Linked DNA regions of Homo sapiens. The protein of the gene in region 1 purifies or fractionates together with the protein of each later gene. This does not show direct contact. Each region holds a gene or a part of one and is shown on either strand. Other genes may lie near its edges.

Evidence for each region. The genes of interacting proteins can lie anywhere in the genome.
Region 2: the proteins of RETN (region 1) and GLI4 purify together in Homo sapiens (affinity purification with mass spectrometry; 2 studies listed by BioGRID and IntAct, with this or other methods). This does not show direct contact.

Annotation. Positions count from the first base shown.
Region 1 is NC_000019.10:7,665,213-7,670,979, reverse strand, and holds RETN (resistin isoform a precursor), read right to left. Parts: upstream 1,932-5,767; 5' UTR 1,859-1,931; intron 1,708-1,858; exon of another isoform or gene 1,664-1,707; 5' UTR 1,654-1,663; coding exon 1,536-1,653; intron 1,160-1,535; coding exon 1,082-1,159; intron 804-1,081; coding exon of another isoform or gene 762-803; coding exon 631-761; 3' UTR 525-630; downstream 1-524. UniProt on the Homo sapiens protein: Hormone that seems to suppress insulin ability to stimulate glucose uptake into adipose cells. Potentially links obesity to diabetes. Promotes chemotaxis in myeloid cells.
Region 2 is NC_000008.11:143,270,411-143,277,434, reverse strand, and holds the end of GLI4 (zinc finger protein GLI4), read right to left. Parts: intron 2,732-7,024; coding exon 2,633-2,731; intron 1,539-2,632; coding exon 631-1,538; 3' UTR 504-630; downstream 1-503.

The DNA of each region.
Region 1 (5,767 bases):
TCCCTGACTCTCCGTAACCCAACTTTGCCTGTGCCTTGGGGATTCCTCCTTGCAGGTAGGAAGTGAGGGGTACAGGTTCCAGCTCTGGGCTGAGACATGATTCAGGGTTCCACCCTGACCTGGGGCTCCTGGAGTCTTGGGGCCCTGGAGGGTCCCGTCCACTGCCCAGACTGACCCAGGTCCTCGATGAAGCCTCATTATGAGGACTGGGGGAAAAGGACCCAGCCACTTCCTGGGGAGGTCGGAGACCCCAGGGTGAGCGTCAAGGTAGCCTCAAAGATGAGACGTCACCTCTTGAAGGCAGCCATGAGCCTTGGGTGGGGACGTCACTAGAGGAAGTTCAGGCCCTATTTTCGGAGGAAGCAGTTGGAGACCCCATAGGAGGAAGGGCGATGGGGCAGTAGAAAGTCGCGGTGTCCCCGCCCCCTCCAGCAGCTACGCGCCCCACTCTCTTGGAGACGCTAGATCAGTCCCTCCGGGCCTACTAAAGAAACCACGCAGGGCTCAGATCCGCTCCATCATCATCATCATCATCATCATCATCATCTCCAGGTTTATTTCCAGCTCCCCCGCAACCCCTCCGGACCTGGAGCCGCCTCCGCCCGCGCTGTGCACGCGCTGCGCGCGACCTCAGGGCTGCACACGACAGCAGCGCGCTCCGGTCCAGTCCATGCCCGCGCACTGGCAGTGACATGTGGTCTCGGCGCGCACATCCCACGAGCCACAGGCGGAGCCACAAGTGCAGCCGGTGACGGCGAAGCCTGCAGCCCGGAACACAGGAGCGTGGACTCTGAGCTGGGAGGCTGAGGGTGGGAGCGGGAGGGGGGTGGGGAGCGCGGAGGGGGGTTGGGGGGGCGGGGGTGGGGACGGGGACGGCTGGAGGCTCCAACCACTGAATGGGCACTGGAGGCAGGGAGTGAGGGTGGACACCAGTGTCCAGATGGTGGGCGGAGAAGGCTGGGAGTCAGGACCAAGATCCTAGGGGAGTAGAGGCTGGACACGGGGAACGTGGCGGGGAGGGGGCATTCCCAGGGGACTTGGAACAGAAATGGGCGCCTGGACAACAGTCTCCTGCACTCACCTCGGGGGCAAGTAGCCAGGTCCCCCCTGGAGGTGACGCTCTGGCACTCCAGGCCAATGCTGCTTATTGCCCTAAATACTGGGGGGCAGGAGGAAAGGAGACAGGGGGAGCTGTGAGACCAAACGGTCCCTCCCCCATCCTCCCCTAGCCCTGTTGGTTTGGAGCTAGGTCCCTGTGGGCATAGGAGCTCACTGGCCTCCAGGACCCTGTCTTGAGTTGGGTGTTTTGGAGTAAGGGAAGGTTTGGAGTGAGAGCGGGGATTGGGTTTGGAGCCGTGGATAAGGTGGGGACAGTCGGAGGGGTTGGGAGTGGAGTTGGGGTTGAATTTATGATCTGGTTGGATTTGAGGATGAGATTTGGTGAGCGCTGGGGCTGGGTTGGAGTCAGGTCTGTGCCAGGGATCAGTGAGGTCTCTGAGACCCTTGGGGAGCTTGCCCAAGTGGGGGGTCCTCACTTAGGGAGCCGGCGACCTCCTGGATCCTCTCATTGATGGCTTCTTCCATGGAGCACAGGGTCTTGCTAGACACCAACAGCCCCAGGACAGGGAGGAGGAGGAGACAGAGAGCTTTCATCCTGCAGGCGCTGAAAGAGGGAACCAAGAGACCCACAGCTGGATCAGCCCTGCCCTGTGGGGAAGATCCGGCCCATGGAGGGAGTAGGATCTGCCCCTGGACCTGGACCCCTGTCCCCCCATGTGGGGGACAGGGATGGAGGCTCAGCCTTGACCCCAGCCTCCCCGCTGGTGCCATGGCAAGCGCAGGAGCAGCTGTCACTTACCCTCTCGGTGGGCTCAGCTAACCAAATCCGGCACACGAATTCCTGCACCGCAGCTCTTTCTTTGAGGCCTCTTGGGGTGGGGCTTCCTGGCTTGGCTAATAAGTCCCTGGGCCCCCAACCCTCCGGTCCCACATCCGGGGCCAAGAGGAAGCCCCTGAGCAGACAGTAAGGGCTGGAGGAGGAAGGGAGCCTTCCCACTTCCAACAGGGCCTCCGTCTTCATGTCCAGAGACTGGTCAGGAGGTGGTGCCCCAGGGATAATGCCAGGGGCTGTGGTCTGAGGAACAGGTAGACAAGCAGAGTTTTGCATGCAAGGGTGGCTGATGCAAACATGACAAAATTAATGCCTCTTGCTAGGCATGGTGCGGACAAGCACTTGTAGTCCCAGCTACTAAGGAGGCTGACGTGAGAGAATTGCTTGAGCCCGGGAGTTCGAAGCTACAGTGACTTATGATCACAGCACTGCACTCCAGTCTGGGCAACAGAGCAAGACCACTTCTCTAAAATAGTAATAATAATTATGTCTCTGGGTGAGAATGACATACCACATTCATACCCAAATGCCCATGAGCAATAGAACTGGTAAATAAAATCATGGTTTATGGCCGGTGGCTCACGCCTGTAATCCCAGCACTTTGGGAGGCCAAGGCGGGCGGATCACTTGAGGTCAGGAGCTTGAGACCAACCTGGCCAACATGATGAAACCCTGTCTCCATTAGACATACAAAAATTAACTGGGCGTGGTGGCGTGTGCCTGTAATCCCAGCTACTTGGGAGGCTGAGGTGGGAGAATCACTTGAACCCGGGATGTGGAGGTTGCAGTGCACTGAGATCGTGCCCCTGCACTCCATCCTGGATGACTAGCTTGGGCACCATAGCAAGACTCCATCTCAAAAAGAAGAAAGAAAAATCATGGTTTATTCCATCAATGGCATCACCTGCAACAGAAGTTGGAAAGCCATTGCTCATGGGCCAAGGTCCAGCTCATGTTTCTTCTTGGACCACCCATGAGCTTGGAATGGTTATTACATTTTTATTTGTTCTTTGTTTCCAGTACAACGGGCCTTTTTGTGGTAAAATACATATAACATACAACTTACCATTATAACTTACTTTTTTCTTTTTTGAGACGGAATCTTGCTCTGTCGCCCAGGCTGGAGTGCAGTGGCGCGATCTCGGCTCACTACAAGCTCCGCCTCCTGGGTTCACGCCATTCTCCTGCTTCAGCCTCCCAAGTAGCTGGGACTACAGGCGCCTGCCACCACGCCCAGCTAATTTTTTGTATTTTTTTTTTTTTAGTAGAGATGGAGTTTCACCGTGTTAGCCAGGATGGTCTCGATCCCCTGACCTTGTGATCTGCCCGCCTTGGCCTCCCAAAGTGCTGGGATTACAGGCGTGAACCACCGTGCCCGGCCTTTTTTTTTTTTTTTTTGAGACGGGGTCTTGCTATGTTGCCCAAGCTAGTGTCAGACTCCTGGCTTCAAGTAATCCTCCCACCTTGGACTCCCCAGTAGCTGAAGCTACAGGTATGCACCATCTTGTTCCATTTTAACCATTGCTTTTGTTTGTTTCTTTGTTTCAGAGTCTCACTCAGTTGCTCAGGCTGGAGTACAGTGGCTCAATCTTGGCTCACTGCAACCTCCACCTCCTGGGTTCAAGCAATTCTCCTGCCTCAGCCTCCCGAGTAGCTGGGATTACAGGCGTGCACCACCATGCCCGGCTAATTTTTTGTATTTTTAGTAGAGATGGGGTTTCACCATGTTGGCCAGGCTGGTCTCAAATTCCTGACCTCAAGTGATCCACCCGCCTCAGCCTCCCAAAGTGCCGGGATTACAGGTGTGAGCCACCATGCCCAGCCTATTTTAACCATTTTTCAGAGCACAATTCTGTGGCAATAAGCACATTCATGTTGTTATGTAGCCACCACTGCCGTCCATCTCCAGAACTTTCTCCTCTTTCCAAACTGAAACTCTGTCCCCATGAAACACTCACTCCCTATCCCTCTCCCCAGCCCCTGGCACCCTCCATCTTGCTTTCTGCCTCTATGGATCTGATGACTCTAGGGACCTCCTAGGAGTGGAATCACACAGTGTTTGTCCTTTTGTATCTGCTTATTTCACTGAGCATAATATCCCCAAGGTTCATCCCTGCTGTAGCCTGAGTCAGAACTGTTTTCCTTTCCATGGCTGTATCACATTCCCTTGTGTGGATGAACCACGTTGTGTTTATTCCTTCATCCATCGATGGACACTTGGGTTGCTTCCAGCTTTTGTTTTGTTTTTTTGTTTGTTTGTTTGTTTTTGTTAGTTCACGTCTTTTGTGGGTTTTCTTTCTTTTTTGAGATGGAGTCTCACTCTGTTGCCCTGGCTGGAGTGCAGTGGCACGATCTCGGCTCACTGCAAGCTCCGCCTCCCGGGTTCACTCCATTCTCCTGCCTCAGCCTCCCGAGTAGCTGGGACTATAGGCGCCCGCCACCATGCCCAGCTAATTTTTTTGTATTTTTAGTAGAGACGGGGTTTCACCATGTTAGCCAGGATGGTCTCGATCTCCTGACCTTGTGATCCGCCCGTCTCGGCCTCCCAAAGTGCTGGGATTACAGGTGTAAGCCACTGCGCCTGGCCGTCTTTTGTTAATTCATACAGTTATTTGTCTTCTGGTTTGTTGAAGCAGTAAGTCAGACAACATTTGCCACAATAATGTCTGTCAAAGTGGCTTGCCATAAACACTGCAGCACCACATTCATCAGAAGGGCAACCTCGACGAAGGTGACTAATTTTGCCATTCTCATCCACCTTATAATATTTCAGGACAGCCAGCTTCACCTTCTTTCTCTTGTGCTTATTCGTCTTGCAGGTAAGACTTCTTCTTCTGGCCGGGCTCAGTGGCTCAGGCCTGTAATCCCAGCACTTTGGGAGGCCGAGGCAGGTGGATCACGAGGTCAGGAGTTCAAGACCAGCCTGGCCAACATGGTGAAATCCTGTCTCTACTAAAAATACAAAAATTAGCTGGGCGTGGTGGCACGTGCCTGTAATCCCAGCTACTCGGGAGGCTGAGGCAGGAGAATTGCTTGAACTGGGACCCGGGAGGCAGAGGTTGCAGTGAGCCGAGATTGCACCACTGCACTCCAGCCTGAGCTACAGAGCGAGACTCCATCTCAAAAAAAATAAAAAAAAGACTTCTTCCTTTCCTTAGCACCACCACGAATTCTCAATACAAGATGAAGAGGAGACTCCTTTTGAATGTTGTAGTCAGACAGAGTACGCCCATCTTCCAGTGCTTGTCTTTGCTGATCAGGAGGAATTCTTTCTTTACCCTGGATCTTGGCCTTTACATTTTCTACCATATCTGAGGGTTCAGCCTCGAGGGTGGTGGTCTTCCCTGTAAGGGTTTTCAGGAAAATCTACATTTTGGTGGCGGCTCCACCACAGATGGCGGATCTAAAAGGTTTTTGTTTTTTGTTTTTTTGAGACAGAGTTTCGCTCTTGTCACCCAGGCTGGAGTGCAAGTGGCACGATCTTGGCTCACTGCAACCTCTGACTCCTGGGTTTAAGTGATTATCCTGCCTCGGCCTCCGAGTAGCCAGGATTACAGGCATGTGCCACCACCACACCTGGCTAATTTTTTTTTCTTTTGTATTTTTAGTAGAGATGGGGTTTTGCCATGTTGGCCAGGCTGGTCTCAAACTCCTGATCTGGAGTGATCCGCCTGCCTCGGCCTCCCAAAGTCCTGGGATTACAGGTGTGAGCCACTGTGCCTGGCCTGCTTCTGCCTTTTGGCTATTGTGAATAATGCTGCTCTGAACATAGATGTGCAAATATCTGTTTGCAGCTCCTGCTTTCAATTCTTCTGGGCGTATGTCCAGGAGTAGTGCTGCCTGATCATATGGTAATTCTATGTTTAACTTTTTGAG
Region 2 (7,024 bases), on another chromosome or scaffold:
CCTGAACACCCTGGGCCCCCACACCCCAGGGCAAGGGGCTGGTGCAGAGGAAGCCCGGGCCACTGCTGCCCAGCAGGCCCCCCACTGAATGGAGGCAGCAGAGCTGACAGGGCACGTGGGGAAGCCTGCTGCATTTACAGAAGCAGAGGCCTCCCAAATACATAAGGGAACCGAGTTGCCAGAGACCCCTCACCCAGGTGGCAGACAGGCAGCCTGGCCAGGCCTGTGAGCACTTCTAGACTGGCCCCGTCCTCGACCCCTGCTCTGGGCGCGCCCCCCCCGCCTCCCGTGTTGATGGTGGGGTATCAGCTTTGGGCAAGTCAGGACACCTCCAGGCCTCAGATCCTCCCCTACGACACTCGGGCCGCCCGCCAGACCCCAGGGACCCCGTGGCCCTGTATGGCAGGTCTTGGTGGAGCAGCCCCATCACCCCCATCCCGCAGCGGGTCCTCGGGGACAGGAAGCTGCCCCAAGGTCTCACCCAGGCAGGTGCCGGCTCCCACTTCCAACAATCAAAAAGAATTTATTCCGGACACGTGGCATGCGGTGCTGGGCAGTGCCCACCGTGGGGGACGGGGTGGAGGGTGGGTTGGGGGCAGGTAGGAGGCCGAGCCCCGAGCCCCCGCCCGGCTACTCGCGGTAGTGCACCCGCTGGTGCTGGATGAGCTGGGAGCTCTGGCCGAAGGCCTTGCCGCAGGCGCCACACGCGAAGGGCTTCTCGCCCGTGTGGGTCCGCAGGTGCCGGAAGAAGTGCGAGCGGCCGCGGAAGGCTTTGCCGCAGTCGGAGCACTCGTAGGGCTTCTCGCCAGTGTGGATGCGCTGGTGCTCGATGAGCACGGAGCTCCAGATGAAGGCCTTGCCGCACTGGCTGCAGGCGTAGGGCTTCTCACCCGTGTGCAGCCGCTGGTGGCGCACCAGGTTGGAGCTCTGGCTGAAGGCCTGGCCGCACTCGCCGCACTTGTAGGGCTTCTCGCCGTTGTGGATGCGCAGGTGCTGCGTGAAGTGCGAGCTGTGGCTGAAGGCGCGGCCGCACTGGCCGCACTCGTAGGGCTTCTCGCCCGTGTGGATGCGGTGGTGCTGGATGAAGCCCGACCAGCCGCGGAAGCGCTTGCCGCACTCGTGGCAGGCGTAGGGCTTCTCGCCCGTGTGGATGCGCTGGTGCTTCAGGAGCAGCGAGTTATACTTGAAACTCTTGCCGCAGGCCTCGCACCTGTGCGGCTTGGCCCCCCGCGCGCTGCCCTGCCGGCTCCGACCGAAGTTGACTCCCAGCTCGGCAGCCCGCTCGGGCGCACCCTCGGGCCCGGCCGCTGCTTGCTGCACGAGCGTCACGCGCCAGGCGCCCCGCGGCTGGGCGCAAGGGACGGCCCCAGGCGGCTGGCCCGCCGGCCGCTCCGCGCTGGATTCAGGCCCGAAGCCGGCGCTGCACCGGGCCCTGCGGGGAAGGCTCCTCAGGAGGCTGCGCAGCGCCCCGCCCGCCCCCTCGTCAGGGGCCTGAGAGCCAGGAGAGCGTGGAGCCTGCTCCGGCTTGGGCTCGGAGTCTGAAATGAGAAACGGCAGAGGCGGATAGTACCCGCATGCCCCCACCGTGGCACGGAGGGACGGGGACGGGGAGTGAGAGCAGAGCTGGACGGGGGGGCTTAGAGGGGACAAGGAGGGGCCAGGCACCCAGTGGATGGGAGACAAGCGGACAGGGGCTCGGAGTGCCGTGCCCAGGAGAGCTGACATAGACACAGGGGTGGGGGGCGTTGCAGGGTGACCCAGAGCTGCTGGGACCATCCACAGTCACCACGGCGGCCGTGCCGGTGCACGGAGCCACAGTGGCAAGACAGACCATGGGGTCACCCTTAGCCAGGAGGAAGCACTAAGTGTTGGTGAGGACCCGGAGCCTGGGGGACGCCAGAGCTCCAGAGGGCGCCTCAAAGCCCTTGCCGAGGATGTGGTCCATATGGGCACAGCTCCTCATGGGGCTGCCCCAGGCCTCGGTGGCAAGTGTGCTGCCGCCCAGCTCCCATGCCCACCCCAGGAGCTTCCCACGCAAATCTCTGGCCCAGGGTCTCTTTCCAGGGACCTGACCTCAGACACCTGCTCCCCACCCCAGGGCCGCCCAGATGTGGGCGAGGGCTCAGCACTGTTAAATCCAGCCATATCACTAACATCGCCCAGAGGGAACCCTGGGAGCTTCTCAAGGGGGAGGTGCAGGGGACCTGGACACAGCTCCAACCAGGCTGAGGGGAGGCCATCTAGGGGATGCAGGAGGAGGAGGGGACACAGGATAACTCGTGGATCTGGGGGGACAGTGGTGCCCTGAGCCAGAAGCCCCAGCCCAAGGCAGGTGGAGGGGAGGGAGGAGTTCCTGATTCACTGTGTCCAGCTGGGGCCGGCAGGAGTCCACGTGGGGCCACTGGCGCAGGTGGCTGTGGGCTGCAGTCACCGCCTCGGGAAGCATCAGTAACTGGACTGGCATTAGAGTGGGGGAGGGGCCACGGGGCAGAGGTGAGCTGATGCCAGGGAAGAAAAGGGGCCCCAGGAAGGGGGTGGTGCCAGCATTGGGGGTGCCACAGAGGTGGGCATTGTGAGGAGCCTGGCACGCGCAGAGCTCTGGTCCCCCAGTAACCCGATTCTGCTCACTCACCGGGCCAGAAGGTGTCTCTGCCGATCTCCACTTCCTCTACGTCTTGGAGATCCAGGTCGGACGGCTGGGAGAGCACCTTAGGGCTGGAGCCAGGGGAGCCTGGGGGTCAGGGAGGCTGGGGCTCACCTCCACCCTCTGGACCACTGCCTCCGCTCCTCTCTGACCGCCACGTGCTCCCGGGCTGTGGCCCTGACACAGGACACCTCCTGGCCCTCCCAATCCCAACAGCAGGCCCGCTGCTTGGGCTTCTCTAGCCACGAATGCCCTTTACCTTCCTTCCCAGCTCGGTTCAAGAGCCTCCTCCTCCAGGGGCCAGCATTGGGAGCTCATTCCCCTTCAGCCCAGTAAGCAGAGCCAAAACCTGGGGGAGCTTTGAAGCGGCCCTCCTGCCGTTGAAGGCGGCTTTGTCACCTTGGTGGGCTGTGGCCCACCCTCCTCCATGCCCCAGCATCCTGCAGTGCTGCTCTGGACCGGCCTCTCAAAGTGCTGGCCCTGCAGGCTCCCACACCCGTACCTCACAAAGCCTTCCTGCCTTGGCCCCAGACCTTTCTGTCCCTCCGGGGCTCTCTGCTGTCCTTGACGAGCGCCCAGAAACAGCAGAGGCAGCTGCTTCCAGCAGGCCCAGCGCACTGGCCCCTGGCTTCCTCAGGCAGAGCCTGAGGAATGGGCTGGGCCCATCTATGAGCCCCTCACCCCTGGGCACACCAGGCTTGGGCACCCAGGACCAAGACCCCCCTCCCACCCAAGACTTGGTGGGGGCAGGGTGGGGGGATGGCCTTAATGCTCAAGGAGCACAGACTGAAAAGGGAGGGGCGTGGGCTCCACTGCCCGAGGCCAGTGGTCAGCTCTCCTCACGCCAGCAGGGGCACCAGGCCCCTTTGGGGGTCTCACCTGTCTCCTCAGTGCTGTGCCACCTTGGTGCCTCACCTGCCCCCTCAGTGCTGTGCCACCCTGGTGCCTCACCTGCCCTCTGCCCACAGCAGAGAGGGTGGCTGGGGGCTGTACTCAAGGACGGGTGTGTCTCTTAGCCCCGTGAGGCCGAATCTGGGTGTCCCCAGCAATGACAATGCAGAGATGGGCACAGAAAGACGCAGGGCTGGGGTGGGCAGAGGCTCCTGTCCACACCCTGTTCATAACACAGTGCCTGGCTGTGACACCCCGTTCATAACAGTGCCTGGCTGTGAGCTTTTCATGGGGCTTTCCAGCCTCAGGCAGGCCTGCCCCAGCTGCGGTGGGGTGACCAGCTTGGCCCACCATGGAGGGGGGACCTCCCCAGTCCAGCCAGCCACTCACTCACCCGACACGCCCTCCCGCCCTCAGGTCGGCCCCTGGGAGACCTTCCGAACCCAGGCTGAGGAGTGAGGGGAGGCCCGATATGAAGGGCTGGGAAGTTCAGCAGGTGGGGGCGGCTGTGCGACGTCCCTTCCTCGAGAGCCGAGGGTCCAGAACTGCTTGGCTGCCCCAAAGCAGGATGTGGGGGTCCCAAACCATCTTTGGGTCTTTCGGATACCCTCCCCATTGTGGAGACAGGCCTGGGGGCACCATGTCACCATCCCCTGGCAGCCAGGGGAGCTGGCTTGTTCCACAGATGGCCAAATACAGGGCAGGCTCCAGCGCCATGCTCCTACAGAGGGGGCGGTGAGGACATCACCTGAGACAGCCTTGCCACCTTTGCCCTGCGCTGGGACACCACTGGAGAGGACCTGGCAGCCCTTTGAGAAAGAAAGTGACCCCGATTCCAGCTTTGTTCCTGGGGCCATGCCCTGGCACTGACAGGCAGGATGTTCCCCGGGCTGTCACTTTAAGAGGGCCAGTGACATTACCAAGATAGGAAGCACGCCAAAGCCGCTGCCAGCTGTAGGGGTGCCCGGAGACACCCTCAGAGTCAAGCAACGCCAGGTGGTGTGCACCGTCTCTACCCTGCTGCGGAACAAGCCGACTCAGGATGGCCCCCAGCTCCCTGGGAACTGCCCTGTGCAGGCAGCAAAGCACTTCCTAGGACCTTCTCTAGGGGAGGATGGGGGTGGCCTAGGGTCAGGTGTGGGCTGCATGGGTCACTGTCATTCCACTGCCTAACCCTGGATCCTGACACCTGCCCACATTCGGGCCATTTCTGCAGAGCTCAGTCACCTGCCACCTGCTGGCTGTGCCCAGGCTGTGCCAGGTCTCCACAGGGTGCACACCCAGACCCTGCTCCCCACCCTGCTGGCTCTATGCAGAAGTACCCCTGCCTCAGTTTCACCACCCCTCACCTGGCCAGTGCCCTCCCACTGTGCTGTGACACAGGGACAGTGTGGCCCGAACTGGAGAAACACCAGGGCTGCCCACCTGCTGGGGCTGGTCTTCCAAGTGGAGGTGAGGTGGCTGTACACGTCTGGGGACAGGCGGCAGGTGGGTGCTTTCCTGGCTGGAAGGGCCTTTGTGTATTAAATGGCACAGCAAGTGCTGTGTGCCCGGGCCTGGACCAGGGTGAGTTAGGGGAGCAAGCTAGGCGCTGGGGGGTGGTCTGTGGGAACCTAGAGTCCAGATCTCAGGTGCCAAGGCCAGGCGCTCCATGTGGAAAGATGCTGTGCCTGTCGCGGGGTGGCCCTGCCCTGCCCATGGGGTCCTCCCTAACAGCCTGGGCACTCAGTAACCCCCACAGGGCTGCAAGCCCCCAAGGGTCCCAGGCCTCCCCTCCCTCACTTCTTCCTGCCCAGACTGCCCCTCCACTCGCAGGACCCCTGGGTAAACCTTCCAGAACCGGCCCAGGCAGTGCTGGCTCTGGTGGGCGTGGCCTTGGGGCACAACACAATCCCTGAGAAGCTGTGTGGGGACCCTCAGTCCCCCAAGCCCAGCCCAGCTCCTGATCTGCATCTCCGTGGGGACCACAGAGGTCCTGGGAGATGAGGAACTGTGGCCTGTTCCCACCGCCTGGTCTCCCCGCTCTGCAAGGCTTGGGCTAGGCCATGGCCCCAAGTCCTTTGCTGTGGGACCCCAGCTTCATGGCTGCAGGGACCACCGCAGAGAACCTTACCCGGCCGCTCCTCATGCCCCTCACGACCCTCCCCACTGATAAACGGCTCCTACTTGGGACCTCCTCTGCTCCCTGATACGTCACGGCCTGGTGCCCAGCAACGCACCCACCAGAGGCTCCTGAGGTGACCACATGTGCCTGGGGTGGGCCCCAGGAACCTCGGTCTGGCCCACTGCAAACTTCTTTCTGGGAGTTGGGAGGCTGCGGCTCCAAGTCCTGTCTTGATCCCTAATTGGCAGGATGGCCCTGGGCAAGTTCCAGAAACAGCGAGGTCTCCCCTGCTTAGGAATCTGTGGCCCCTGGGCATTCCCAAGGAGCAGAGGAAGCTGGAAACGCCCAGAAACAGCCCCTGCCTTCACCCAGTGCCTGGAAGTTGGGACAGTAGCTGCCCATTGCTGCGGCCTGGCCCCGTTCTCTCTACACCAGGCCTATCAGCATGAAGAGGGGATGAAGGCCGCCCCCTTATCTGGCTCTGGCTACCTGACAGCCTTCCCAGGCCCCGCTGTGCCTCAGCCACAATCTCCTCCTGCCACAGTCTCTTGCTGGGGGAAAGCAGCCACACTTGCTGTTCTCAGGGCCCAGCTCATCTGTCCTCCCTGGATGTTGTTTCTAGCACAGCAAGGAGACGGCAGAAGCTGCTGGTGCAGCCCCCACTCCCTCCCACGGGGCAAAACCCCTGGGGGTTTCAGGGCACTCGGACATGGCTCCAGTGCCCAGGAGGCTTCCAGGCCTGTGGGGCTGGGGACTCATGCCTGGCTTTCTGGGCCTGGCTGCCCACAGCTGGTGGAGACAGGGCTGGGGGTAGCGCAACCCTGCAGGCTCAGGGGGCCTGGCCCCAGGCCCCTCCATGCTCCCCAGCCCACCCTCCACCTGGGCGTCAGTTTCTTATCCTGCAGAAACTGGCCTGCAGCCACCTCAGTGTGTGTCCTGTGCTGTGCCAAGATGATCTGCTGGGCTGTGCCCTCCCTCAGAAACTGTCCCCCTAGAGAAGTCACACCTCATCAGGCCTGGGGGGGTGCCAGGGCATGCCCTGAGTCTGCTGACCTCCTGGCCTTGTCTCTGGGCTTCTGTGTCCCCACTGGTAACGGGACAGGAGAACTCCTCTCAGCCATTGTACAGATGACATGAGAGGGCAAGGGTGGGCCCTGAGATTCTGACTAAGGGGTGAGGAGCACGGCCCTCAGGGGCATGGGCTGGAGGCCCAGCCACAGTGTGTGCTGCAGGGGCTTGGGATCCTTCCAGGTAGCCCCTGGCCAGGTCCACCAGGACAGGCAGCCCAGGCAGCCCACGGGCGCCCCTTCCCAGCCTCCTCGCAGTCCCTGGGGAGTTGCTCGGGACACCGCAGCGGAGACGGCAGGGCTGCAGGGGAGTGGATG